7 linked regions of the Homo sapiens genome follow. The protein of the gene in region 3 interacts with the protein of the main gene of each other region in a biochemical or structural test. Each region holds a gene or a part of one and is shown on either strand. Other genes may lie near its edges. The genes, in order: CDC34, DCUN1D5, CUL3, CAND1, PDCD6, KBTBD13 and RCBTB2.

What was found.
Region 1: the proteins of CUL3 (region 3) and CDC34 form a complex in vitro, tested with the Homo sapiens proteins (one study listed by BioGRID).
Region 2: the proteins of CUL3 (region 3) and DCUN1D5 form a complex in vitro, tested with the Homo sapiens proteins (2 studies listed by BioGRID, with this or other methods).
Region 4: the proteins of CUL3 (region 3) and CAND1 form a complex in vitro, tested with the Homo sapiens proteins (one study listed by BioGRID).
Region 5: the proteins of CUL3 (region 3) and PDCD6 form a complex in vitro, tested with the Homo sapiens proteins (one study listed by BioGRID).
Region 6: the proteins of CUL3 (region 3) and KBTBD13 form a complex in vitro, tested with the Homo sapiens proteins (one study listed by IntAct).
Region 7: the proteins of CUL3 (region 3) and RCBTB2 form a complex in vitro, tested with the Homo sapiens proteins (one study listed by BioGRID).

The regions. Positions count from the first base shown.
Region 1 is NC_000019.10:534,760-538,259, forward strand, and holds part of CDC34 (ubiquitin-conjugating enzyme E2 R1), read left to right. Parts: intron 1-1,077; coding exon 1,078-1,164; intron 1,165-1,483; coding exon 1,484-1,581; intron 1,582-2,253; coding exon 2,254-2,388; intron 2,389-3,500. UniProt on the Homo sapiens protein: E2 ubiquitin-conjugating enzyme that accepts ubiquitin from an E1 ubiquitin-activating protein, and catalyzes its covalent attachment to other proteins by an E3 ubiquitin-protein ligase complex. In vitro catalyzes 'Lys-48'-linked polyubiquitination.
Region 2 is NC_000011.10:103,082,161-103,085,660, forward strand, and holds part of DCUN1D5 (DCN1-like protein 5), read right to left. Parts: intron 1,167-3,500; coding exon 1,096-1,166; intron 680-1,095; coding exon 588-679; intron 1-587. UniProt on the Homo sapiens protein: Contributes to the neddylation of all cullins by transferring NEDD8 from N-terminally acetylated NEDD8-conjugating E2s enzyme to different cullin C-terminal domain-RBX complexes which is necessary for the activation of cullin-RING E3 ubiquitin ligases (CRLs).
Region 3 is NC_000002.12:224,508,864-224,512,363, forward strand, and holds part of CUL3 (cullin-3), read right to left. Parts: intron 2,720-3,500; coding exon 2,491-2,719; intron 1-2,490. UniProt on the Homo sapiens protein: Core component of multiple cullin-RING-based BCR (BTB-CUL3-RBX1) E3 ubiquitin-protein ligase complexes which mediate the ubiquitination and subsequent proteasomal degradation of target proteins.
Region 4 is NC_000012.12:67,275,858-67,279,357, reverse strand, and holds part of CAND1 (cullin-associated NEDD8-dissociated protein 1), read right to left. Parts: intron 1-3,500. UniProt on the Homo sapiens protein: Key assembly factor of SCF (SKP1-CUL1-F-box protein) E3 ubiquitin ligase complexes that promotes the exchange of the substrate-recognition F-box subunit in SCF complexes, thereby playing a key role in the cellular repertoire of SCF complexes.
Region 5 is NC_000005.10:312,560-315,474, reverse strand, and holds the end of PDCD6 (programmed cell death protein 6), read right to left. Parts: intron 1,059-2,915; coding exon 960-1,058; 3' UTR 501-959; downstream 1-500. UniProt on the Homo sapiens protein: Calcium sensor that plays a key role in processes such as endoplasmic reticulum (ER)-Golgi vesicular transport, endosomal biogenesis or membrane repair.
Region 6 is NC_000015.10:65,075,291-65,079,545, reverse strand, and holds the start of KBTBD13 (kelch repeat and BTB domain-containing protein 13), read right to left. Parts: upstream 2,801-4,255; 5' UTR 2,731-2,800; coding exon 1,354-2,730; 3' UTR 1-1,353. UniProt on the Homo sapiens protein: Substrate-specific adapter of a BCR (BTB-CUL3-RBX1) E3 ubiquitin ligase complex.
Region 7 is NC_000013.11:48,495,081-48,498,580, forward strand, and holds part of RCBTB2 (RCC1 and BTB domain-containing protein 2), read right to left. Parts: intron 1,242-3,500; coding exon 1,111-1,241; intron 1-1,110.

The sequences.
Region 1 (3,500 bases), on a different chromosome or scaffold from region 3:
AAGACCCCCGAGTGCCCTCCCTGTCCAGACCTCGCCCATGATCCAAGACCCCCGAGTGCCCTCCCTGTCCAGACCTCGCCCACGATCCAAGACCCCCTGAGTGCCCTCCCTGTCCAGACCTCGCCCACGATCCAAGACCCCCTGAGTGCCCTCCCTGTCCAGGCTTCCACCACGATCGCTCTGGGGGTGCTGCTCTCGTGCCTTGGAGTGCTGAGTGCCACCAGGACCCCTGACCCAGACAACCTCTGTGTCTGGCACTGGGGCCCAGCAGGAAAACAGTGAGGCTTCCTTGTTTACCTGCTGTGGCCCAGGAGGGCCGTGGGTGGCATCACGCCCCAGGCTGCAGGCCAGACAGCTCTGTCACCTGGCACGTGGCTTCAGGCCTCCCTCTGTGGCCGTCCTTGCCAGCAGATCTGGACCTCCAGGGCCTGGGTGACCACAGGGGGCGATGCTGACAGGGAAGGAGTCCTGCCAGGTTTCTGTGACCTATGGGTCTGCCTGCCTGACCCCCCAAGACCGGACACCTGAGGGCAGACGGCCATACTGACTCATCCCCTCCCACGGCCTGGGCCAGGGCAGGTGTCACAAGTGTTTGCTAACTGAGCAATCATCTGTGCTAACCCTCCCCACACCCTGGCTGCCAAGGCCCTGGAGGTGCAGCCCTGGTCCTGGGCTTCAGCTCCATCCAAGGGGAGCCTGGAGCCCCTGCCAGTCCATTCTGTCTGCTGGTGGGTGCCCCTGGCCTGGGTCCCATATGCCTGACCTGGGCTGCCACGGGCCTGGAGCCACGCGGGCAGCCAGTGCCCACGTTCCCCAGCAGTTGTGCTGGGCCGGGTCCCGGCCACCTGGACTGTGTAGGAGCTGGGATCAGCTCGGGTGACTCAGAAAAGGCTTCAGGCAGCCTTCTGGGGACTTGACCCCAGGCCTGTGAGAGTCCCTGCCTTGGGCAGGATACGGTGTCCCTCACACACACCCTCAGGCACCAGCACTGGGAGTGGGATGGCCTTGGGCACCTTGTGAGCTGGGGCAGGTCTTGGGGCTGGGCTGGACTGAGCCACCTGCCTTCTGCCCCTGCAGGCGCGCCTCAAGTTCCCCATCGACTACCCATACTCTCCACCAGCCTTTCGGTTCCTGACCAAGATGTGGCACCCTAACATCTACGAGGTGAGCGCGGCCCCCACGGGCCTCAAGTCCTCATCCTCCGGGACCCAGGGTGCTGGGAGCCTCACGTCCTCATCCTTCCGGGACCCGGGGCGCTGGGAGCCTCACGTCCTCGTCCTCCGGGACCCGGGGCGCTGGGAGCCTCACGTCCTCGTCCTTCCGGGACCCGAGGCGCTGGGAGCCTCATGTCCTCGTCCTTCCGGGACCCGGGGCGCTGGGAGCCTCACGTCCTCGTCCTCCACGTCCTCATCCTCCGGGACCTGGGGCACTGGGAGCCCGTGCTGACCTCTGACCTGTTCTGACCTGTCTTCTTCTTGTGCAGACGGGGGACGTGTGTATCTCCATCCTCCACCCGCCGGTGGACGACCCCCAGAGCGGGGAGCTGCCCTCAGAGAGGTGGAACCCCACGCAGAACGTCAGGTAAGCCGGCCCAACCCCCTGTGTCCACCCAGAACATCAGGTAGGCCGGGCTCCGTCCCGTATCCACCCAGACCATCAGGTAGGCCGGGCTCCCCCACAGGCTGTGGCGCCAAGGCCTGATTCGGGACCTGCCAGCTGGCGGTCCTGGGCCTCGCTGTACCTGCACGGTAGGTGCTTTCACGGGGCCTGCGGCACCGTGTGTCGGTGCAGACTCCCACCAGGACCCCAGGCCGGCCCCACCGTCTGGAACCACCTAGAGGTGTCCCGCCATCCTCAGTCCTGGGGCCTTCTCCTTACCCAGCCGTCTCTGGGTTGGTCACCTCGTGCCACGTGTGCCGCCTGGGCCTCGTCCCCAGGTACAAGCACTGGGCCGTGTTGCCCGTGTGTCCTGGAGTGTAGTCTAGGCAGGACGTGCGGGTGTGAGGGCAGCCCCGGGTCTGACGGAGGGGTCTGCACCTTGCTGCCCTCCCTGGTCTTGGCGTGGGAGGGAGGAGACTGATGCAGGTCCAGCCCCTGCTGTTCTGGGGGCCTGAGACAGAAGCAGAGGCCATGAGGCCAGGTGAAGGTCACCTGCTGGGTGGGTCCAGGCGTCCCCGTGACCCTCAGGGCCAGAGAAGAGCCGGAAGGCTGGGGTGCCCCGGGCCGCCCCACTCCGACCCACTCTCCCCACAGGACCATTCTCCTGAGTGTGATCTCCCTCCTGAACGAGCCCAACACCTTCTCGCCCGCAAACGTGGACGCCTCCGTGATGTACAGGAAGTGGAAAGAGAGCAAGGGGAAGGATCGGGAGTACACAGACATCATCCGGTGAGGGCGGGCGGGGGCGTCACGGGAGGAGAGACTCAGATCCGGCCTGCACCCCGGCCCCTGGTCCCACGGCCGCCCAGCCCCACCTTCCTGGTGAGGGTGGCGGAGCTTCCTGGTGCCCATTTACAGGGTGCCAGTCACAGATGGAGGCCGGGCCGAGTGGCGGAGGGTCCAGCCAGGTTCAAGCCCAGCTTCTTGCCCCTTTTCCTCTTTTTTTTTGTTTGAGACAGAGTCTCTCTCTGTCACCCAGGCTGGAGTGCAGTGGCGCGATCTCGGCTCACTGCAAGCTCCGCCTCCCGGGTTCACGCCATTCTCCTGCCTCAGCCTCCCAAGTAGCTGGGACTACAGGCGCCCGTCACCACGCCCGGCTAATTTTTTGTATTTTTAGTAGAGACGGGGTTTCAGCGTGTTAGCCAGGATGGTCTCGATCTCCTGACCTCGTGATCCATCTGCCTCGGCCTCCCAAAGTGCAGGGATTACAGGCGTGAGCCACCGCGGCCGGCCTTTTTTTTTTTTTTTTTTTTTGGAGACAGAGTTATACTCTCTTGCCTAGGCTGCAGTGCAGTGGTGCGATCTCGGCTCACTGCAGCCTCCACTACTCGGGTTGGAGCAGTTCTCCCCCTTCATCCTGCCAAGCAGCTGGGATTACAGGTGCCCACTACCACGCCGAGCTAATTTTTGTAATTTTTAGTAGAGGTGGGATTTCACCATCTTAGCCAGGCTGGTCTCAAACTCCTGACCTCAGGTGATCCACCCGCCTCGGCCTCCCAAAGTGCTGGGATGACAGGCGTGAGCCACTGCACCTGGCCTGGTGGTTAGTGTTTTCATAGATTCTTCCAGGCTTTTCAGTTTAACGCATGTCTGTGCTTTAATGAAGAAATGGGGTCGTGCTGTGTGTGCCCAGTGACTGACTGTTAGGGAACATGTGTCTGTGCCTTAATGAAGAAATGGGGTCGTGCTGTGTGTGCCCAGTGACTGACTGTTAGGGAACATGTGTCTGTGCTTTAATGAAAAAATGGGGTCGTGCTGTGTGTGCCCAGTGACTGACTGTTAGTCAGGGGTGTTGGCCTTACTCATGTCTGGAGTGCGTCCCTGCAGGCTCTTGGCCTGGT
Region 2 (3,500 bases), on a different chromosome or scaffold from region 3:
AATTCTATAACTTATGAAAATGTTCAAAGACAGGATCCTAAACTGAAAGTGTAGGACTATAAAATGGGTAAAGATTGCACGGGAGCAGTTACAACATTTCTACTTTTGTCCTTTATGAAATTCACTTGGCAATAAAGAAATCATAAAAGGGTTATGTAACTCTATCTTCAAATTTTTAAAGTCAAATATTAAAGTGAAGAAGGGAGAGGAGGCCCTAGAGCTTAGGGCTGCCCAACGAACATACTCCTTCGATAGTAGAATTCTGTATTGAGAGAGGAAAATCCTTATACTCAAACAACCTGTAAATAAATAGGTCTTTGATCATAGACTTTTAAGTCACTCACCAAGAGAATCAAGGAATTTTAATAGGACTGTACTAAGGTTCTTTCTTAGAGAATATAAAACATGGGGTACCTATATATTTGCCCAAGACCACAATATAATTTTTTCAATCCCCAAACTAATTGTTATAGATCAAACAGATTTGATTTAAGGTGAAACCTTACTCCTGAAAATTATGAAGCACAAAATATCAATTAAGATCTTCAAATAGGCCATCAAATTTGTTTTTTAAAAAAATTTCTTACTGTAATGAAGTCATTCCCTTTAACCATTCTTCCTTGGTAAAAAATCCCATGCTTTCAGCCTCCAATTTCCACGCTAAAACTAACATAATAATCTGGAAAGAACAGAACATAAAGGATAGGGGAAAAGTCAGCATAGAGATAATCATGTCTATATTTATCATGGAGAGCATTTTTACACAACTACTTCCATCCTTCAACTATTAAAGAGTACAACCTCTGGAATTATTAACTATATACAAAGAAATTGAGATGTGCCAATTTCTTAAAAGTAAAAAGTTCTAACAGTTTCTGAAGGTAGAATCTCTTATTCTATTACATATAACATTTGTATCAAGAAAGAATACATTTGCCCAACTTAAACTGATTAAAAATACCTTAAATGCAAATTTACAATATTAAACATGAAGAAATAAAATCTTCATACAAGATTAAAGTGTCTCGATTTTTAGTAATTTACGAATATGCTATACCCCACTTATATGCCATTCTACTTAGAAATAAAACATACATTTTCAGGTTCAACACCAATGTCTTCACAAAATTTTTCCATTCCTTCTGGCCCTACAACTTCATCAGGACCTTCAAAGACAAAAATAATTAACATATTTTGTTATAATATCAACATAAAACATAAATCGTCATGCTAAAGGTACCCATGAACACACCATAATATTTTGCAAATAATTAAATTTGAATTTTGGCATAGCTTTGATAAGTATAAATATTTGCTACAGGATTTAAAATTTAAAATTTGTGAAGTATTCTTTGAACACCAGATTACAATATGAAATTAAGAAAATTTAAAAAGCAGCAAAGAAATACTCCATTAGTATCAATCACAAGTTAGTACAAAAACTCAAACCAATCCATTAAAAAAAAAATTCACTGAGAGCCTACTCTGAATAAAATTTTTGACAATGCATGAATATGAAAAAACATAAGGCAGCTGGAGCTTCTTAATCTACTGGAATATCAGAACCAACACAAAGTTCAATACAGTAATCAGAAGGGGAATATATTTACCTATAAAACAGGCCATTTATTACCCTTTTGAAATACACTCAAATATAATTTAATTATTGAAAAAGACAAAGGTATTTTGAAAATAATGACTTATGGAAATTACTACATTCCATTTCCAGAAAGAGCTATTTTCCTTATCATCTTGGTTCTAAAACAGACAGCAAGCATTGATGTCACCTTAATGTAGAAACAGAAGTTTAATCTTTCAATTAGTTAGTGTCTATCATTCATCCAAAAATTAATTACTGGCATTTAACTTGTTCCTTATTTTACACCCTTAGCAACATTAATAAATCAATACATCAATTATCATTTTTTCAAAATGTTATCAGATTCCCAAAATATAGTAATTACATCATCACTAGGTCTCTTTTGTGACTGGATAAGAATAAAACAAATTTTGTAATAATATGAGAAATGTGTTTACCACTATGGGATTTTGAAAATATAATCTTGAGATATTATTCTTAAGAGTCAAGAGAAGCCTCTATTTTCCTTTTTCAAGGATGAAAATCCTCCAGCTTTATAAACCATAGACTAGACCAAGGCTGCTCAGGTAAATTTGACAGCACCATATTTAGGTTACTAGCACAACATAAAGTCAATACATTCTTGCTGCCTGAGATCCAAGCTGCTAAGATGACATTAATACTGGTCTGAAGCCAAAACCCTTTTTAATTTTTTTGTGTAACATGTTAAGTGTTATTAGGTTTAAATAAGTACTAACAATGCACTCGTGTTAAAAGGTGAAGGGGGTGATTAATTATAGGGCACTTTCTCTTCCTTTACATATTTGGAGAATTGTTTAAATGAGAATGTGTTAATTTTATAACTTAAAAGGCATACATATACAATAAAGGTGTTAAAATGCATAAATGAGTATGTATTCTTATATATGATTGAAAGAAAACAAAAATCAGATTTGAAAATTTAAGAGGCCCAGGCGCGGTGGCTCATGCCTGTAATCTTGGCACTTTGGGAGGCCGAGGTGGGATTATCACTTGAGCCCAAGAGTTCCAGACAAACCTGCACAACACAGGGAGACCCCATCTCTAGGGAAAAAAAAAATAGCCTTGTGTGGTGGTGCCAGTCTGTGGTCCCAGCTACTCAGGAGACTGAGGTGGGAGCATTGCTTGAGCCCAGGAGTTTGAGGCTGCAATGAGCCATGATCACGCCATTGTACTCCAGCCTGGGAGAGAGCAAGGCCCTGTCTCAAAAAAAAATAAAAAATAAAAAATTAAGGGAAAAGACAAACGGTTTTTTTAAAAGCCACGATGTAAATATATTGTAAATTTTTCTAAAGCATCAAGAAAACATACTTGCTCTCAAAGTTGCCATTAGTGATTCAAAGAGAAAGCTTTAGAGGATGTCTAGAAACATCAGCATAAGCTAGGAGCAGTGGCTCACGCCTGTAATCTCAGCACTTTGGGAGGCCGAGGCAGATGGATTACGAGGTCAGGATTTCAAGACCAGCCTGGCCAAGATGGTGAAACCCTGTCTCTACTAAAACTACAAAAATTAGCCAGACGTGGTGGCAGGTGCCTGTAATCCCAGCTACGCAGGAGGCTGAGGCAGGAGAATCACTTAACCTAGGTGGCAGAGGTTGCAGTGAGCCGAGATTGCGCCACTGCACTCCAGCGTAGGTGACAGAGCGAGACTCTGTCTCAAAAAATATAAAAAATAAAAAAGAAATATCAGTATAGCCCCCCTAGAAACTGGAGGATTACTTGGTGATTACTAATTAAAATTTGGTTAGAAGCAAGTCAAATGAGATTACATAGAGATATAATACCTTATAACTTAGATAAGGTCTGTAAATGTTAACTGACTTTGCCAAAGTGATGTAAATAGTAACAGATCTAAGTCTAAAGCGAGGTCTGTAACTAATGT
Region 3 (3,500 bases):
AGGCAGGAGAATGGCATGAACCTGGGAGGCAGAGCTTGCAGTGAGCTGAGATCCCACCACTGCACTCCAGCCTGGGCGACAGAGCAAGACTTCGTCTCAAAAAAAAAAAAAGATACCTCTGAACTTCATTTCATAGTGCTATCTGCATCTAATAATCAATCCAATTTATCCTCCATTCACAGTGAGAAAACTGTTTTTCATTTTCTGATTTATGAGAATTTGGCTTCATAATGGTGAAGTTGGCTCTGCTATATTCTCAACAAGAGCAACATTTTTTCCAAGAGCAGGGCCTACCACAATTAGGATATTTTGCCACCAGGTTTCTAGCGGAAGCTCAGAAAAATTAACCCCCCCACCTTTTTTTTCTTAAGACAGGATCTCCCTCTGTAGCCCAGGCTGGAGTGCAGTGGCATCATCTTGGTTCACTGCAGCCTTGACCTCCCCAGCCAGATTCAAATGATCCTCTCACCTCAACCTCCCAAGTGGCTGGGACTAGGCATGTGCCATCATGCCCAGCTAATTTTTGTATTTTTCATAGAGACAGGGTTTCACCAATTTGCCCAGGTTGGTCTTAAACTCCTGAGCTCAAGCGATCCACCTGCTTCAGCCTCCCAAAAATACTGAGATTACAGGCGTTTGCCACCCTGCCTGGACAAAAGCAGGATTTTAAAATTTAATTTAGAATCACAGATAGCTACTGTGTTGTTGGAAACCTAAGGTACTAAATAAAGGAGAACTCTGGTGAGTACTATTATGGTATTCCTTCATTCACGTAAGTGCTCGCCATGATAGGCATACCTGACACCTTTTACATACATCTCCACACAGGTTACAGAGATGCTGTAATTCAGGTATGCCCAACAACCTCTCCATCAAACATTTCCTATCCCCTAAGGTAGGTAAGAAAGCATTCATTCAATACCTAAACAGTACATTACATAATTTATCAATACTCATTTTGTTTAAGCAGGGCAAATGCTTTGCATAAAGTCCCAGTCTACCAGAGACCACTTAGAGAAGGGTCATCGAATTAGAACCCGTGGGGCAAATACAGCCTGCCATCTATTTATGTACAGCTCATGAACTAAGGATGGTTTTCACATTTTTAATGGCTGAGGAAAAACTGTAAAGAATGCTATTTAGTGACACATAAAAATTATATGAAATTCAAGTTTCAGGGCCCATAAATAAAGTCTTATAGAAACACAGGATTATTCATTTGTTATTGTCTAGGACTATTTTCTCACTATGACTGCGTGGCTCACAAGCCATTTTATTCAACAACAAAAAAGCTTGCCAACCCCTGACTTGGACCTCAATTTTAGAAAACACAGCAAATATACTAGATGACTTCTGTTTTTTTTTTTTTTTTGGCTTTTACAAAAAAGGTTTAACTGAAGAGTCTTTTAAAAAGGAAGCCTCTCTAGTTTTTTTTGTTTTTTTTTTGTTTTTTTAAATTACATATAACTTTTCAGGGATTTCTCATATATACAAACATTTAACAATTTTAAAACACAAGGTAAGGATTCCACTAGAGATAAACATGGCTCAACTTCCCACCAGCTTTCGTTTTCCTTTCTCTTGTATCCTCCTTCTCTTTATAATTCTCCTTTAAAAAATTTTTTCATTCCCTACATAGCTCATGACCCCAACAGGCAATATGTATTTCTTTTACTAAAAAGAAGTGGATAAAATATTGCTTAGATTTCGTCTAGGAAGCAGGAGAACAAAGTACCATGTTTTTTATTTCCTAATACCATATAAGTGGTAAAGGCAAAGTTTTAAAACAAAGCATCAGAAACTAAGAATAGAGGATATGGTTATTGTTCTTTTAACTTGTAATTTCTTCTAGGATACTTGTCACAATTTTTCTTTTACCCCAGGAAAATAAATAGCTATAAAAAACAAATGTTAGTTATCTCAAAAATGTTCTTTACTTTTATGCACTCCTCCTTCCTCCTTTTCCATTCTGTAACTTCAGTGTTCCCCAAACCAATCTAATTTATCTAAGTATGTCAATATGGAAGACACAAATATTTTTGCATTTTCAGCACCCTGTCACAACTAAATCCCAAAGGAAAGTCTACAAAAATCTTAAGGTGGAAACTTAAGGTTTTAAGAGAATCACAAAACCCCAAGAGAGTATGTAGGACTAAAGAGAGCCCACACCCTTTGGTATACAGGAAGTACAGGAATGAATGAGGAGCTCACTGGGCTCACCAATACTATTACACCTTTTATCTTCTGGATTAAATGTAAAATGAGACTTAAAGACAGGAAATGCTCAATTCATTAGAAATATCTAAAATCTTCGTTAGTAAGACAGAATCAAGCTTGGAAATCCCATTAAAGTTAACAATGGAGACAAATTAACAATACACACCAAAACTTCTTGAAAGCTGATATTATCTGCTTTAATTGTAGGAAAATTTTAAAAATATCGATAAGGCAGAGTAAGGATTTAATTATTTTTCAATCGGTAACACTTACCTTCTGTCTTTCCATTTTTCAACATATGTACTAGCCCAGAATTCTCCATTTCTACTATAGTCTTCATGTGCTTGGAAATGAGTTCCCTTTCAACCACCTTTACAATTGGTTCTTCCGTTGATTTGTCAAGGCAGTGCATCACTCGTTCTATTTCTTCATTAATTCTAGCTTCTACTTTCTTTATATATACTGAAGCACTATTTTCTGCTAAAAATTTCTGGCTTTCCATCTGCCATTTAAAAATATATATATTTTTTAAACATAGAAGAAAAGAGTGTTTTTGCTTTTAGCTGGGTTTCTACAGTGTTTATAATAAATCAGCCTAAATAAAATAAGTACTATTAGCATTTTGTGTAATTTCTCATTACACGAAAGACTGATATAGTCTGAATTATATCCTTTAAAGCCTTTGGTATTTACATAATACTAAATTAAAACATTATCTGTAAGCAATGTTTTTCAAACTGTGCCAATGTACTCCAAAAAATAGCAGAACAAGTATATACACGCCAGTGAGGGTCAAAAGCTTAGAAGCATCTGACTCCAAGATACAGTGGGACATTCTTTTTTGATTTGTTTTAATGTAAAATTATAACCAGAAAGATTCATCATGTTTATCATAAGCTTTGCTGGCATACTGCTGGTTAATTAAGTCTTCCAGTGCCATCCCACTCCCAGTCTCAAAGAGTAAACATGTACACTAAAGTTTGAAAATAAGAGCTTTTAAATAACTATTCATCTTTTTTTTCTTTTTTTTTTTGAGACAGAGTCTCGCTCTGTCACCCAGGCTAGAGTGCAGTGGCGCGATCTCAGCTCACTGCAAGCTCCACCTCCCGGGTCCACACCATTCTCCTGCCTCAGCCTCCCGAGTAGCTGGGACTACAGGCGCCCGCCACCACGCCCGGCTAATTTTTTTGTATTTTTAGTAGAAATGGGGTTTCACCGTGTTAGCCAGGATGGTCTCAATCTCCTGATATAGTGATCCACTCGTCTCAGCCTCCCAAAGTGCT
Region 4 (3,500 bases), on a different chromosome or scaffold from region 3:
ATTTACTCTTTTAGGTATGGTGCTAAGGGCACAGATCTCAATACATTTTATAAAACACTACTCAAGAGCATATGGAAATTATCACACCCAAGAGTTGACTGTTAGGTTGGATCTCAAAGGATGAACAGGGGTTTGCATGGGAAAAATTGGTTTGGAATTTAAATTACTTTTTTTTTTTTTTTTGGTGGTGGGGAAGGACAGAGCACCTCAGAGTGAAGGACTAAGGAAACAGTTCAGTATGTGGAGCACAGAAACCTAATAGGAAGATGATGGGAATATAGGCTGAGGTCAAAATGGGAATGGCGTTATATACTCATACACTGTGTAATAAGAACCTACTACATATCAGGTACTGTACTAGTTTTTGCTGATATAAGGGCTAACCAAAGCACACACAATTCTTGCTGTCTTGGAGCTTACATTGCAGTCTAGTAAAAGGCATATTAACTTTTTAAATTGCATGTATGAGTAAGCACCTGTAGAACTAAGAACTAAGATAAATGCTATGAAGGAAAGTGTTATCAAGAAAACACTATGGGGCCAGGTGCCAGTGGCTCACGCCTGTAATCCCAGCACTTTGGGAGGCCAAGGCAGGCAGATCTCCTGAGGTCAGGAGTTCGACACCAGCCTGGCCAACATGGTGAAACCCTGTCTCTACTAAAATTACAAAAATTAGCTGGGTGTGGTGGTGTACACCTGTAATCTCACCTACTTGGGAGGCTAAGGCAGGAGAATCGCTTGAACCTGGGACACAGAGGTTGCAGTGAGCCGAGATTGAGCCACTGCACTACAGCCTAGGTGACAGAGTGAGATTCATCCCAAAACAAGAAAGCACTATCATATAAACAAAGTAACATGACCTAGACTGAACTGCGGGTTGTGTCAGGAAAGACTGATCTGAAGAGTAGGAGCTGGGCATGGTGGCTCACACCTGTAATCCCAGCACTTTGGGAGACCTAGGCAGGTGGAGGTCAGGAGTTCCAAACCAGCCTGGACAACATGGTGAAACCCCGTCTCTACCAAAAATACAAAATTAGCCAGGCATGGTAGTACATGCCTGTAATCCCACCTATTTGGGAGGCTGAGGCAGGGGAAATGCTTGAACCTGGGCGGCAGTCGCTTGAAGCCGGGCAGTGGAGGTTGCAGTGAGTCAAGATCACGTCACTGCACCCCAGCCTGAGCAAAAGAGTGACACTCTGTCTCAAAAATAAATAAAGAGTAGGCAAAATTACGGTGAAGCAGGAGGAAGTTAGTGCCAGGTAAGCAAGGGCCAGGAATTTAAAGGATTTGTAGACCATATCAGGATTTTAGCCTTTATTCTAAGAGAGTGGGAAGCTACTGAAAAACAACTGGGTTACAGATGGGGAATAAATGCAATGATCAGATTTACATTTCAGAAACATTACTCCAGCTATACTGTGGACCATACTTTGGAGAGAACAAATCTTCATTTGGCCATACTGAATGGAGACTAGTTAGGAGAATGACTAAGTTAGAAATTATGATGGCCTGACTTAGGTTATGGCAATCAATGAAGATGGAAAAAAAAATGACATACAGTTGATTCTCATTATTCCCAGGTTCCATATTTGCAAATTCACCTACTCATTAACATTTATTTGTAAAGCAAAATTAATGCTTCCTATTTCACAGTCATTTGGATGAGTGTCGAGTGGTGAAAATTTTGAGTAATCCAACACATACATTCCCAGCTGTGGTGGCACAAAGCAACACTCTGCCTTCTAGCTCCAGCTCTCATGTTGTAAACAAGCATCTTCTTCTTGGCCTATTTCAGCCCATGTTTTTCACATGTTTGTGCTTTTTCTTGGCGCTCTTGTTGTTTAATATGGCCTCCAAGCACAGTGCTGAAATGCTGTCTAGCATTCCTAAGTGCAAGAAGGCTATAATGTGCCTTCTGAAAAAAACATATGTGTTAGATAAGCTTCTTTATTGGCTGTGAATTCAATGTTAATAAATCAGCAATATATATTAAGACAACTTTAAAAGAAACACTCATAAAACGAGGTTACAAACTCATCAACTGATTAAAATAATGTGACTCAGGACTCAGAGAAACTAATTCCATAATTCCCTCAGAAGCAATGGTTCAGTACTTGCTAACTCAGTGTTTGTGATAATGTTACAAAACATACTACAAATAATGAGAACTAGTTGGTTTGAATTTTACAAACTAAAATTAATAGTTCTTCAAAATGGATTAGATATAGGGATGGTAAGGATGAGCTAGCAGGAAAGAAGTAAAAGGAAAACCACAAGACTGGGTAATACAGTCAGCTAACATATCCTTGTCCAGAGTCTTAATGTTACCCTGCAGCCATTGTCACATCAGATGAATAAACTGCTCATCTTACAACAGAAGAAAGGATTAACTTTGGTTAAACTGCAAACTACATGGAATGGATATTCCTCTGATCTTAACAAAATCTCCGCCATAGTGAAGATGTGAAAATCAAAAATTAATGTCCTGCAGCCCAACTTTGTCTACCCTTGGCCAAAAGTGGGCACTGATAAAGAAAAAAACAGCAGCCTCCACATTCCAGAAACTTATCTGAGACTCATAACTAAACCTCAGTGTTATTACTAACCGATCTGATGCTTAACAGCTAAGGCATATTGTTTTCTTGGACATAAACAATCTCACAGAACATCCATTTCGGACAAGGTCCCTGAGCAATACAAAATACCAAACATTCCCCTCTCCAGTTAAATGAGTGACTGATACTTCTTTACCAACTACAGCTTTCCCCCTGCTTAGGTCAGCCCTCCCTGTAAAATTTATTAAGAGGCCGAATCATAGAATTGACCTCACTTTCTGACAACACTCAACCTAAAGCAAGGCTTCACTTCCTTAGACTCTTTCCCAAATTACCCAAATGAATAGGTTCCTTCTAACATCCTCTGATACCCTAAAGTGTGTGTTTTCCCTGACTATTACGGACAAAAACCCAACTCGTGTCAGGATGCCCATATAAGAGAATTCCAAGAAGGAAAAAGTGATTTAAAAAAATATACCAAATAGATGAGCAAAGAAAATATCCACTAAATGAGTTATATTAGGAGACTAGGGAGACTGTTGGGGATTTTAGGAGAGCAGTCTCTACGAATTCAGATGGGCAACAGCTAAGAAATCTGGAGTTTATCTTGTAGTCAATGGAAATTAGTGAGGGAGGCAATGATCAGCTGCAGTATATAGGAAGAAAATTCTAATGGCCAGAGGGAACAAACTGGGTTAGGAAGAGGCCTGAGACAGCAAGATTAATTTGAGAAATACTCATCAGGAGACTAAAGAAGACAGACGGGAGAAGGGTGATATCAAAGATTTTCTGCTTGTGACTTTCAGTGGATGGTAATTTAACAGGCCAAAATAAGGATAAAGAAGGCATTAAGACGGGAAAAGAAAAAGATAAATGTTTACGTTTCAGACTTCAATGGAATTCCCAGGTTGATATGACCTGTAGGCAGTGCCATCTCATTCCTTT
Region 5 (2,915 bases), on a different chromosome or scaffold from region 3:
AGAGGCTGCAGCCCCAAAACCAGACGCATCACTGTGGAAGGGAAGCGTCTGGAGAATGAGGCTGGGCCTCGGGAGTGTCAACCCAGGAGGGCCGGCGCTGCACAGTGAGGCAGGGAGGCGGACCGGGCAGCGCTGGCAGTGGACCGAGGTGAGCAGGATGCGCTGGGTGGACAAACGCTGCAGGCCACGTGCAGAGACTGCAGGGCACAGCATGGCTAAATCATTAATGATGGAAATGCACAACCTGCTATACCAAATTGGATTTCTTCATCCAAAAGGAGCAGTCTTATGAAATTTAACCTCCTGAACAGAGGGTGAGACAGTCCCTCTGGATTTTCACAAGCAGAGCTGTGCACGCTGGGCTGGACAATGTTCCAGAAGGTGCCCGGTACCCTGGGAGGTCCCAGGCAAGCCAGAACATCTGACACTGACTGTCTGGAGGACCAGGGCACGGGGCCTGGTTCTTGGACCTATTTGATTTGAAAAGCTGAAGGCAGACCACACGTCTAACATTCCCTTTATTGCTTACGTCACATATTCCAATGAATACAATAAACTCCTTTTTAAAAAAGTAAGGCACATGAAAAGCCTTTTGTGTAAGTTCCATGTTATTTTAAAATTCCTATTGGCTAATAAAAGCATTTGCACTATAGAACCAGAGACATCTAGAAAAGCACATGATAGATTTTTTTGCAAGCAGAATGCCTGAAACATTACATTTACCTCATGGCACAATGAGACAGTCACCAAATCCAATGTCTGCATTAGAACGATACAGCTACTATTACAGTTGCAAAACCATTAATCAGCTTATCCACATATGTACAGCTGGGTCCCCACGTGACAAAATCTAAAGGAAGAACAGCATCTAACTGCACCTGTGCTCCATTCCCTCACAGATAGGAACTGTGACATTTTGGCTCTTTCCATGTTGTGCTGCTCTTCACGAGAGGCCAGGGTCATACGATACTGAAGACCATGGACAGGTACTGTTCGTACGACACCTGAATCCAGCCGTCCTGATCCGTGTCGTAACGTCTGAATATATCCGTCAACCTCTGGGGAGAAAACAGGCATTTAAATCTCGATAGTAAATGGAAGGAGCAAGGTGCACTGGGACAAAGGCATGTAGGGACCCAATTTCAGAAGCACACACGTCTTCTGGGCTCCCTGATGGAGCCCAGCACAGGGAGGCGCAGGTGGGGCTGGAGCTGTTCACACGGACGGTGGGAGTGCGAAGAACGAAGAACACAGGGCTGCGGGGCTGGCTCCGGACATCCAGCCCTGGCTGAGCCCCTGGCTGAGCCCCTGACCCCAGGCTCTGGTCTCCTGAGTCTCCTGGGGGCCTGGGCCCTTCCTTCTCCCCCTGAAGACCGTCCCGTGGAAGCCCTCCACCCTCCAGTGGCTCGCCTCTGCTGTGGGGGCCACCTGGGGCATGTGCAGCGCAGGGGATGCCCAGCCAGATGGGCTTGTGACATCACGAGGGCTTCAGGTTCCTCCAGCCCAGCCCACCCCTCCCTCTCACAGCCGAGGGTCCAGGCCAGGTCAGCGGCAGAGACAGGGTGACCACCTACACTCCTGAAACAGGGATGGTTAAGTAAGTGACACTTCAACCGTAAAATACCCTGAAGATTCAGGCCAGCATGGTGACTCTCGCCTGTGATCCCAGCACTTTGGGGGTCCGAGGCGTGAGGATCGCTTGAGCCTGAGGGTCGAGGCTGCAGTGAGCCGTGTTCGCACCACCACACTCTGGCCTGGGTGATGGAGCAAGGGTCTGTCTCAAGAAAGAAGAAGAAAATGTGGCAGGGAAGACACAGCGTCCTCGCACATCAAGACCTGCAGGAACATGGACAGGGTGTGGTGACTCTCGCCTGGGATCCCAGCTACTCAGGAGGCCAAGGCAGAAGGATCGCTTGAGCCTCAGGGTCAAGGCTGCAGTGAGCTGTTTACACCACCACATTCCAGCTGGGGTGACAAGAGTGAGACTCCATCTCAAAGAAAAAAAAACAACCCTGCAGGAATGCCACAGCCACCACCGGGCTCCTTGACTTGGCAGAGGCTACGGCCTCACCCAACTCCAAAAGCACCGCAATGGATAATGCTGGCTTAAAGAGTAATGGGTAATTTTTCTTTCTATTTTGAATACTTTGTGTTTTTCTAGGGTTTCTAGAAGTGTTCATGTTATTTGTTAGAAAATAATTTTCAAAAAGCCTTTATCCTTTCAGAAAAAGCAGATAAATAAAAACGTTTTTGAGGGAATTTTAACTTGAGGTCTGCAGCTTTCTTTTCTTTCCCATTCCCCATCTGTCTAGCGTTTAGGGTCACTCTCCAAGGGTGGGGACAGCCTGGGAATTGGCTGTCAGGCCCTCCCCACGTGGTCTGGAGCAGGGCCTTGAGGAGGCATCTCCCAGGAGGAGCTACGCTGGCTGCAGATGTGCCTTGGAAGGCGCTGGAGAGGTCGCTGTGAGGCCGCCTGTGTTACTCCAGCTACCGAAAGCTCACACAAGATCAACGTTAACTTATAGAACATAACCTCAAATGAAGATCTGAGCCCTACGGCAATTCAGACACAGAACCTCAAATGAAGATCTGAGCCCTACGGCAATTCAGACACAGAACGAGATTTTACACGGCATCTTTTCCCTTTTTCTTTTCTTTCTTTTTTAAGACAGGGTCTGGCTCTGTCACCCAGGCTGGAGTGCAGTGGTGTGATCTCGGCTCACTGAAACCTCCACCTCCCGGGTTCAAGTGATTCTCCTGCCTCAGCCTCCTGAGTAGCTGGGACTACAGGCATGCGACACCAGGCCCAGCCTACACTTTTTTGAAAGTGTTCAGAGAACATTGTAAAAATGTCATCCAACCTGGCAGGAACCCCGAGAGGCAGGGGCAGGAAAGGGTCCCCAACCGTAGAGTTT
Region 6 (4,255 bases), on a different chromosome or scaffold from region 3:
CTCTGTAGCCTGGGTTCTTTCAAGGCATCATCATTTTAATCTGGGACAGGGAAGTCCCCCAGCTCACTTAACAGGATCTCTGCCCTTACAATCCACACACGTGGTTGTGCACACACAATGATGTTACAGCCAGGGGTCCAATGAGCAATGCAGGCAGCCCAGGTCAGGAAAACGAAGAGCTGGGTGAGCCAATGCTGCACAGAGGATGGTAGAGCACTGACAGGGAGAGAGGAGGAGACTAGGCATTCCAGCCCAGGGAATTGCAAAGGGCAGAATAGGACAGGAAGAGAACAAACCTGTAGAATGTGGAGGAGGGGCTACAACTGAGGAAGATGAGGCAGGATTTGGCTCATACCTCAACTGACCTGAAGTCATGTGGGTTAACAGTCCACTGCCCCGTGGTGATGGCAAAAACAGGGTGGGCAAGGGCTTACACCTGGGTGCTCCCCTAAGGGTTCCAAAAAGGAACGTGAAGAATCCTCTCGCCCCCACAGGTCTCACTCCAGGCTCAGCTCAGTCATTATCTGCTGCAAGCTGGCCCAGTCTCATCCCCTCTCTAGATGCCCCAACTACTGCTGCTCTGCTGGTATGGCTGGACTTGCAGAGACCCTCCCCATCTGCTCCAGCCTTCCCCAACCCTGCTTCTCTTCTGAGCTCTCAGCCTCCATGGTCTAAGCCTCCCCTTTCAGCAGCTAATGGTATCCTGCTCATCTCCTCCATAGAGTTTGCACACTCTCTTCTTTTCTGGAGTTATATATTTTTTCTCTTCCTATTTTCCCTTTGCCCTGATTTCTTCAGCACTTTATTTTATTATATTGTATGCGGTTTTAAATTTTTTTGCATGTTGCCTTCAACTCTGTGGATCAAGTTGTGTGTAAACCTTTTTGTTGTCCTGTAACTGTTAAGATTGTTTTCTGGGTTATCCTTTAAGCTTCCTGGATCCCTGTGTGGCAACTACGGCTCTCATTACGCATAACACTGTATTGGGCATACAGTAGGTGCCTAATTCTTGCCTACTACTTGCAGTTTGATTAACATCATTTAAGTCGCTCCCAGCGATGCTCAATCACTAGCCCATTACATATAAGCCCGGATTATTCAAATCCCAACTCCCCCTACCCTGTTCACTGACATTGTGACCCACCAGCTCTCAGCAGAGCCCAAGTAATTTGAGGGCATCATCACTGCTCCCTGAGCTTCTTGAACATGTCCACACCACCAGAAGGCACCAAACCTGGGTGTCTCAGTAGAAAGAGGGAAGTTGCCAGCTACTTCTAAGGCCGGCCTCACACACTCAGCCATAGCTCAGGGAGGAGTCGCGGCGTCTCCTCCCTCCTAAAGCCAGCCCAGAGGTCACAGTTCTGCCGTTGTCGAAGTCACAGGCCCAGGAGCGCCAGGAGGCAGCCTTAGGAGAAAGGTCTGCAAGGAGCCGGGCCGCGGGAAGCCGGCTTTCTCCCTGAGCAGCCGCCAGGTGCCGCCCTCGATGGCGTAGAGCAGCGTGAACATGCGGTTGACCGTATAGACGGTGTCACCGCGCACCACGGCCGTGAAGAGCGCTCCCTTGCTGTTGACGAACTGGCCGGGCAGCGCCGTCCACTGGCCCGTGGCCAGGTTGAGACAGTCGATGGCGCAGTGCAGGAAGTCGTCGGAAGGTCCGTTGCGCACCACATAGAGGCTGTCGCGGTGGGCCACCATGCAGTGGCCATAGCTCTGCGGACGCCGCAGCTCGGCCACTGGCAGCCACGCGTCGGTCCGCACTGCGTACTCCACCACGGCGGTGGTGTCGGCCGGCCGCCACAGGCACACGAAGAGACGGCCACAAGCCTGGGCGCAGGGCACGCCGGCGGCCGGCTGCGGCAGGTCGGCCACGAAACTCCAGCAGCCCGCGGCTGGGTCGTAGCGCTCCACGGAGCTGATGGGCGTCCTCTGGAATTCGCCGCCGATGGCGTAGAGGCGGCCGTCGAAGCCGGCCAGCGCTGTGTCATAGCGCGGCTGGTGCGGGCTGGGGAACTCGTGCCACGTGCCGCCGTCGGGGTCGTAGCAGAAGCCCAGCTCTACCACCTCCTTGCTGGCGCCGCGCACGCCCCCCACGATGTAAAGCTTGTTGCCCAGCGTGGCCACCCCGGCCAGCAACGTGCTGGCCTCCAGGGGCAGCGCAGCCAGCGTGCGCCACGCGTCCTCTTCCTCGTCCAGGTAACACAGCGTGCGCGAGGCGTCCTCCAGGAAGCCGGGCGCGGGCGTGTGCGTGCTCACGGCCGCGTAGCTGCTGGGCCGCAGGGCCGCCACGTAGGCGCGGGCCTCAGGCAGCGCCAGTTCGGCCGCCAGCTCGCGCTCGCCGTCGCAGATGAAGAGCGCGGCACTGTGGAACACGTCGCGCAGGCCGAAGGCGGCGGCCGCGTCGCACAGCAATGCGCAGTTGTCCGACGTGAGGTTGTGCTCCAGAAAGCGAGCCAGCGCCGGCGCCTGGAGGAAGGCGGCGCACTCCACGGCCTGCAGCAGCTCGTCCTCCGCCGCCAGCGCCGGCCGGTCGCCGCGCAGCACCTGCAGCGTGGCGCGGAAACCTCCCGCGCTCAGAACGCCCAGGCGCACCTCTGCTGCGCGGGTCTCCCGCATGCCGGAGCGGAAGAGGCCTCGGAAGAAGCCACAGTGCTCCACCAGCAGGGCGCGGTCGGCTTGGAAGAGCTGGCCGCCCACCCACACCTGCACCAGGGTCTGTGGACCCCGTGCCATGGCGAGCTGGCCGGGCGGAGGCTGCCGCTGGGGCCTTGGGTTAGCCAGCCACCAACTCTGGGGCTCCCCTGGAGCAAAAAACTTCCCTGGGGGCTATAAATATCTCTCCCTGGCTAAAGATAGTATGGCTCATGTGATGTGGTGGCCCGCAGGCTGTATGGCTGCAGGCCCGGAGGGCATCTGGAGACCTGTGTGATCACTCATATCCTTAGAAGAAATGGTAATAATGGGTCCAGAATTGGTGGGTTCTTGGTCTGACTTCAAGAATGAAGCCGCGGACCCTCGAGGTGAGTGTTACAGCTCTTAAGGTAGCGTGTCTGGAGTCTGTCCTTTCTGATGTTCAGATGTGTTTGGAGTTTCTTCCTTCTGGTGGGTTCATGGTCTCGCTGGCTCAGGAGTGAAGCTGCAGACCTTCGCTGTGAGTGTTACAGCTCTTAAGGCAGCGTGTCTGGAGTTGTTCGTTCCTCCCAGTGGGCTTGTGGTCTCGCTGGCCTCAGGAGTGAAGCTGCAGACTTTCACGGTGAGTGTTACAGCTCATAAAAGCAGTGTGGACCCAAAAGAGTGAGCAGCAGCAAGATTTATTGCAAAGAGGAAAAGAATAAAGCGTCCACAGTGTGGAAGGGGATATGAGCGGGTTGCCACTGCTGGCTCGGGTAGCCTGCGTTTATTCTCTTATCTGGCCCCACTCACATCCTGCTGATTGGTAGAGCCAAGTGGCCTGTTTTGACAGGGCGCTGATTGGTGGGTTTACAATCCCTGAGCTAGATACAAAAGTTCTCCACGTCCCCATCAGATTAGTTAGATACAGAGTTTCCACATACAGGTTCTCCAAGGCCCCACCAGAGCAGCTAGATACAGAGTGTCGACTGGTGCACTCACAAACCTTGAACTAAACTCAGGGTGCTGATTGGTGTGTTTACAAACCTTGAGCTAGATACAGAGTGCCGATTGGTGTATTTACAATCCCTGAGCTAGACATAAAGGTTTTCCAAGGCCCCACCAGAGCAGCTAGATACAGAGTGTTGATTGGTGCACTCACAAACCCTGAGCTAGACACAGGGTGCTGATTGGTGTGTTTACAAACCTTGAGCTAGATACAGAGTGCCAATTGGTGTATTTACAATCCCTGAGCTAGACATAAAGGTTCTCCAGGGCCCCACCAGAGCAGCTAGATACAGAGTGTCAATTGGTGCACTCACAAACCCTGAGCTAGACACAGGGTGCTGATTAGTGTGTTTACAAACCTTGAGCTAGATACAGAGTGCCGATTGGTGTATTCACAATCCCTGAGCTAGACATAAAGACTCTCCACGTCCCCACCAGACTCAGGAGCCCAGCTGGCTTCACCTAGTGGATCCTGCACCAGGGCTGCAGGTGGAGTTGCCTGCCAGTCCTGCACCATGCGCTCGCATTCCTCAGCCCTTGGGTGGTTGATGGGACTGGGCACCGTGGAGCAGGGGGTAGTGCTCGTCGGGGAGGCTCGGGCCGCACAGGAGCCCATGGAGTGGATGGGAGGCTCAGGCAT
Region 7 (3,500 bases), on a different chromosome or scaffold from region 3:
ACTAAAATGTCTCTGTTTTCTTTGACCAAAGGAGAGGATATCCTTATACCAAAAGGAAACTGACTCGAAGATGTTACAGCCTGTTTCCTAAAGATTTGGTTCTAAGATTGGTTTTCTTTCCTTTCTTTATTATCATAACAATACATGGTCACTGTAAAAGTTAAAAAAAAATAAGCAAAGAGAAGAAAATAAAAATCACCCACAATCCCACCATTCAATGATAACCACTAAGCATAGTTTTCAGTCTTTTTTTCTATGTAGATAATGAATTTTAGTTTTTTATTCAGCTATTTATACTTTTTCAAAAAATAAAAATAGGATAAGTTTTTCACTTAGTGATATATCTTGAATAGCTGCATAATTTCTTGATATTAACATTTTATAAACAAGCCTCCACTATTCACACTAACCTTTTTCTGATTTTTCAAAATTATAAACTGCTGAAGTAAACACCTTTGAAGCTAAGTCTTTGTGCAAATCCATGATTAATTCCTCAAGATAAATACTTGTGAGTGAATTCCTTGAAGAATTATGTCTTTAATTTAAGGTGCTTAATACATATTATACCAAATTGTTCTCCATACCAATTTGTACTCTCATCAGCAGTTTAGGAGAACACCATTATTCTGATCCTATACATTATCTCTAAAAATATATTCCTGCTTTGACAGGTGAAAAGTTATACCTTGTTTTCATTTATGTTTTTTGTCTATTTATAGAGCCATTTGTTCTTTGGTCCATTTCTTTCAACCAAACTGTTCCTATTGTCTTTTTGTTTTTCACTCTGGTAAACAGACTTCATTATATGTTGCAAGTATTTTTCCCAGTGTCTCATTACTTTGTAAGTTTCTCTATGGTATTTTTAAGTGGATAAAAGTTTCTTATCTTTTTAAATCAGAGCTATAAATCCTTTATGGCTTCTGCCTTTGATGTCCATCCCAACATTATATAAATACTTGCTTATACGTTGTCTAGTACTCTTGTTACTTCATTTTTTAAAAAATATTAAATATTTCCTCTACCCAGACTTTCTTTTAGTTTAAGGTACGAGGCAGACACCTGGGTTCCATTTCTCCAGGAGGCCGGCAGCTGGAAGCAAGCTTTCCTTACCTGTGCATCATACTTCACCGCAGCCGAGAGCAGAGCGATGGCATTCTCCTCGCAGATGCCTTGCTTGATAGTTTGTTGGCAGAGCTTTTTCAAACGATTTTCTCTATAAAATGTAGCCAAGTCTAGCAGTCCTGGCGGAAAGAGGTGTTTATTAGGGGGAGTGATTTCAAGCATCCTGATTTACAGTTGCTCACTCAGCCACTCAGAGATGATTTTGACACTATTTTAGATATAATCCTCAGTGAAGCACTGCATAGACTGATGCTGACTGACACTTACACTTCAGTGTGGGGCTCTACCCAGGATGGCAGCCAAGCTGAGCAAACATGATACACAAATCATTAGCTGTTGAAAAACAGGAGCACAGGGAAAATAGCTTTAATATTTTTTTCCTAGGAAAAAAGCATGTGCGCCTTGAATGACCCCTTCCCCTGCAATCTCAATGTCAGCTTCTCCTGGGCCACTCCCAGGAGCACACACACATGCTGTAAGAGTGCCCGCCGTGAAAAGAAAGAAAAGAAAAGAAGAAAAGAAAACAAAAGAGAAGAAAAGAAGAGAGGACAGGAGAGGGAGGGGAGGGGAAGGGAGGGGAGAAGAGAAGAGGGGAGGGGAGAGGAGGGGAGGGGAGAGGAGGGGAGGGGAGAGGAGGAGAGGGGAGAGGAGGGGAGGGGAGACCCTTTCATGGACACGTGTCTTCCTCCTGTTACCCTATCCCACTGCTCCTCTCTACAGCAAAACTCCTAGACAGAGCTATCTGTATCTGCTGTCTCCATTTTCCCACCTCCCATTCTGACCTCAAGCCATTACAAGCAGAACCCCATCCCCACCACTACTGCAGTCACACCCTTGGTGGTCACACCTGTGGCAGTCACAGTGGCTTTGAGGGTGCAATATTCTCTGGTTTCCTCTTACTCGACATTTACACAGAATTTGATATGGTTGATAATGCTCTCCTTAGGACACTTTGTCACTTGCTTGCATTTTTCTTCTCTTTAATTAGTTGCTCCTCAGTTCTCTAGGCTGGATCATTTTTCCTGACTTCCAAATGTTTGAGTGCCCCAGGGTTAAATCCTCAGACACTTTCCTCACTTACTTCCCAAAACCCCAGCCCCAGGGTTTTAAATATCATCTATATATGCAGGTGAGTCCTGTTATATTACCTGTCACCTATTTTCAAGTAATTCAACGTAGACTGGGTGAGGTGACATATGTAAATTAATTTTAATCTACCCCAAGGAATGATAGGAAGTACTCTAATTGAAGCAGTCAATCAGCATCTGAAAGATCCTATTTGTTTTTCTGAATCTTCATTACAGGATTTGTAATTAGCATAAAGAATGTCAGAATTAGTTTGTCATTGCTGAAATGAGTGGTAGCCAGGATCAAAAGGCTAGCTGAATCCGGCTACTAGAACACTGTCATGTCCACCTCAAGCTAACTTTTCATGCAAGGTACTTAATAGAGTGTACGAAGTATAAAGAGCAGGGATTTCATCAATTTTACCATATTAATTGTTTTTGTGTCTATCTGCTAATAAATCTTATACATGTGGTAGACTTTGGTTGGAAACTTGCTTTTTTAATAACAAATATTATCAAAGTTATAGAGGAAAGACAGATAGCCCACTGGAGGACACTGAAATCTTGAGTTGTGAATGGCTTCATTGTTTTTGGCCCCAAGCTTCAGACACACATGCAAGCTGCACTGCCCTAAGAGAGGACTCTGCCCCAAGCCCCAGCTCTGCGCCTCCTCCACGCACACCTTCAGCACAGGGTGGCTAAGGAGCCACATGCCCACTTCTAGACCACACTTTGGGTACCTGGGAACCTGGGACTGCCTGCATAATTGGCCTTGAGGCCACATGTGTGGGTATTTCCTCCCTTAGACCCCACCACCAATGTGCAGACCCCCTGGCCCAAAAGGGTAACCTGGGTTGGGGGTGGATAGAGCTTGGAATGCAAGCTAGGGTGCCCACACACCCTTCTGCTGGAGGAGGGGTCTGTCCTGCCTGTGCCATTGGGTTCTGGCACAAGAAGTCCTGCAACTCTAAATGTCAACTAAAATTGAAACCTGTCCTTTCAGTTCTTAATGAAATTACATTTTTCAAGGTGGGAGGATTGGACATATTTTTATCTGAAGTTCACTAGCTTGACATATAACTTTAAGTTTTTAGACATATGGAACATAGGTCTCCATTTGGAGTCTTGGCTACAGCCCCACAAATGTTAGTGGTGGGCCGATAAAAAACTGCCACTCGCGGCCGGGCGCAGTGGCTCACGCCTGTAATCCCAGCACTTTGGGAGGCCAAGATGGGCGGATCACCTGAGGTCGGGAGTTCAAGACCAGCCTGACCAACACGGAGAAACCTCGTTTCTACTAAAAATACAAAA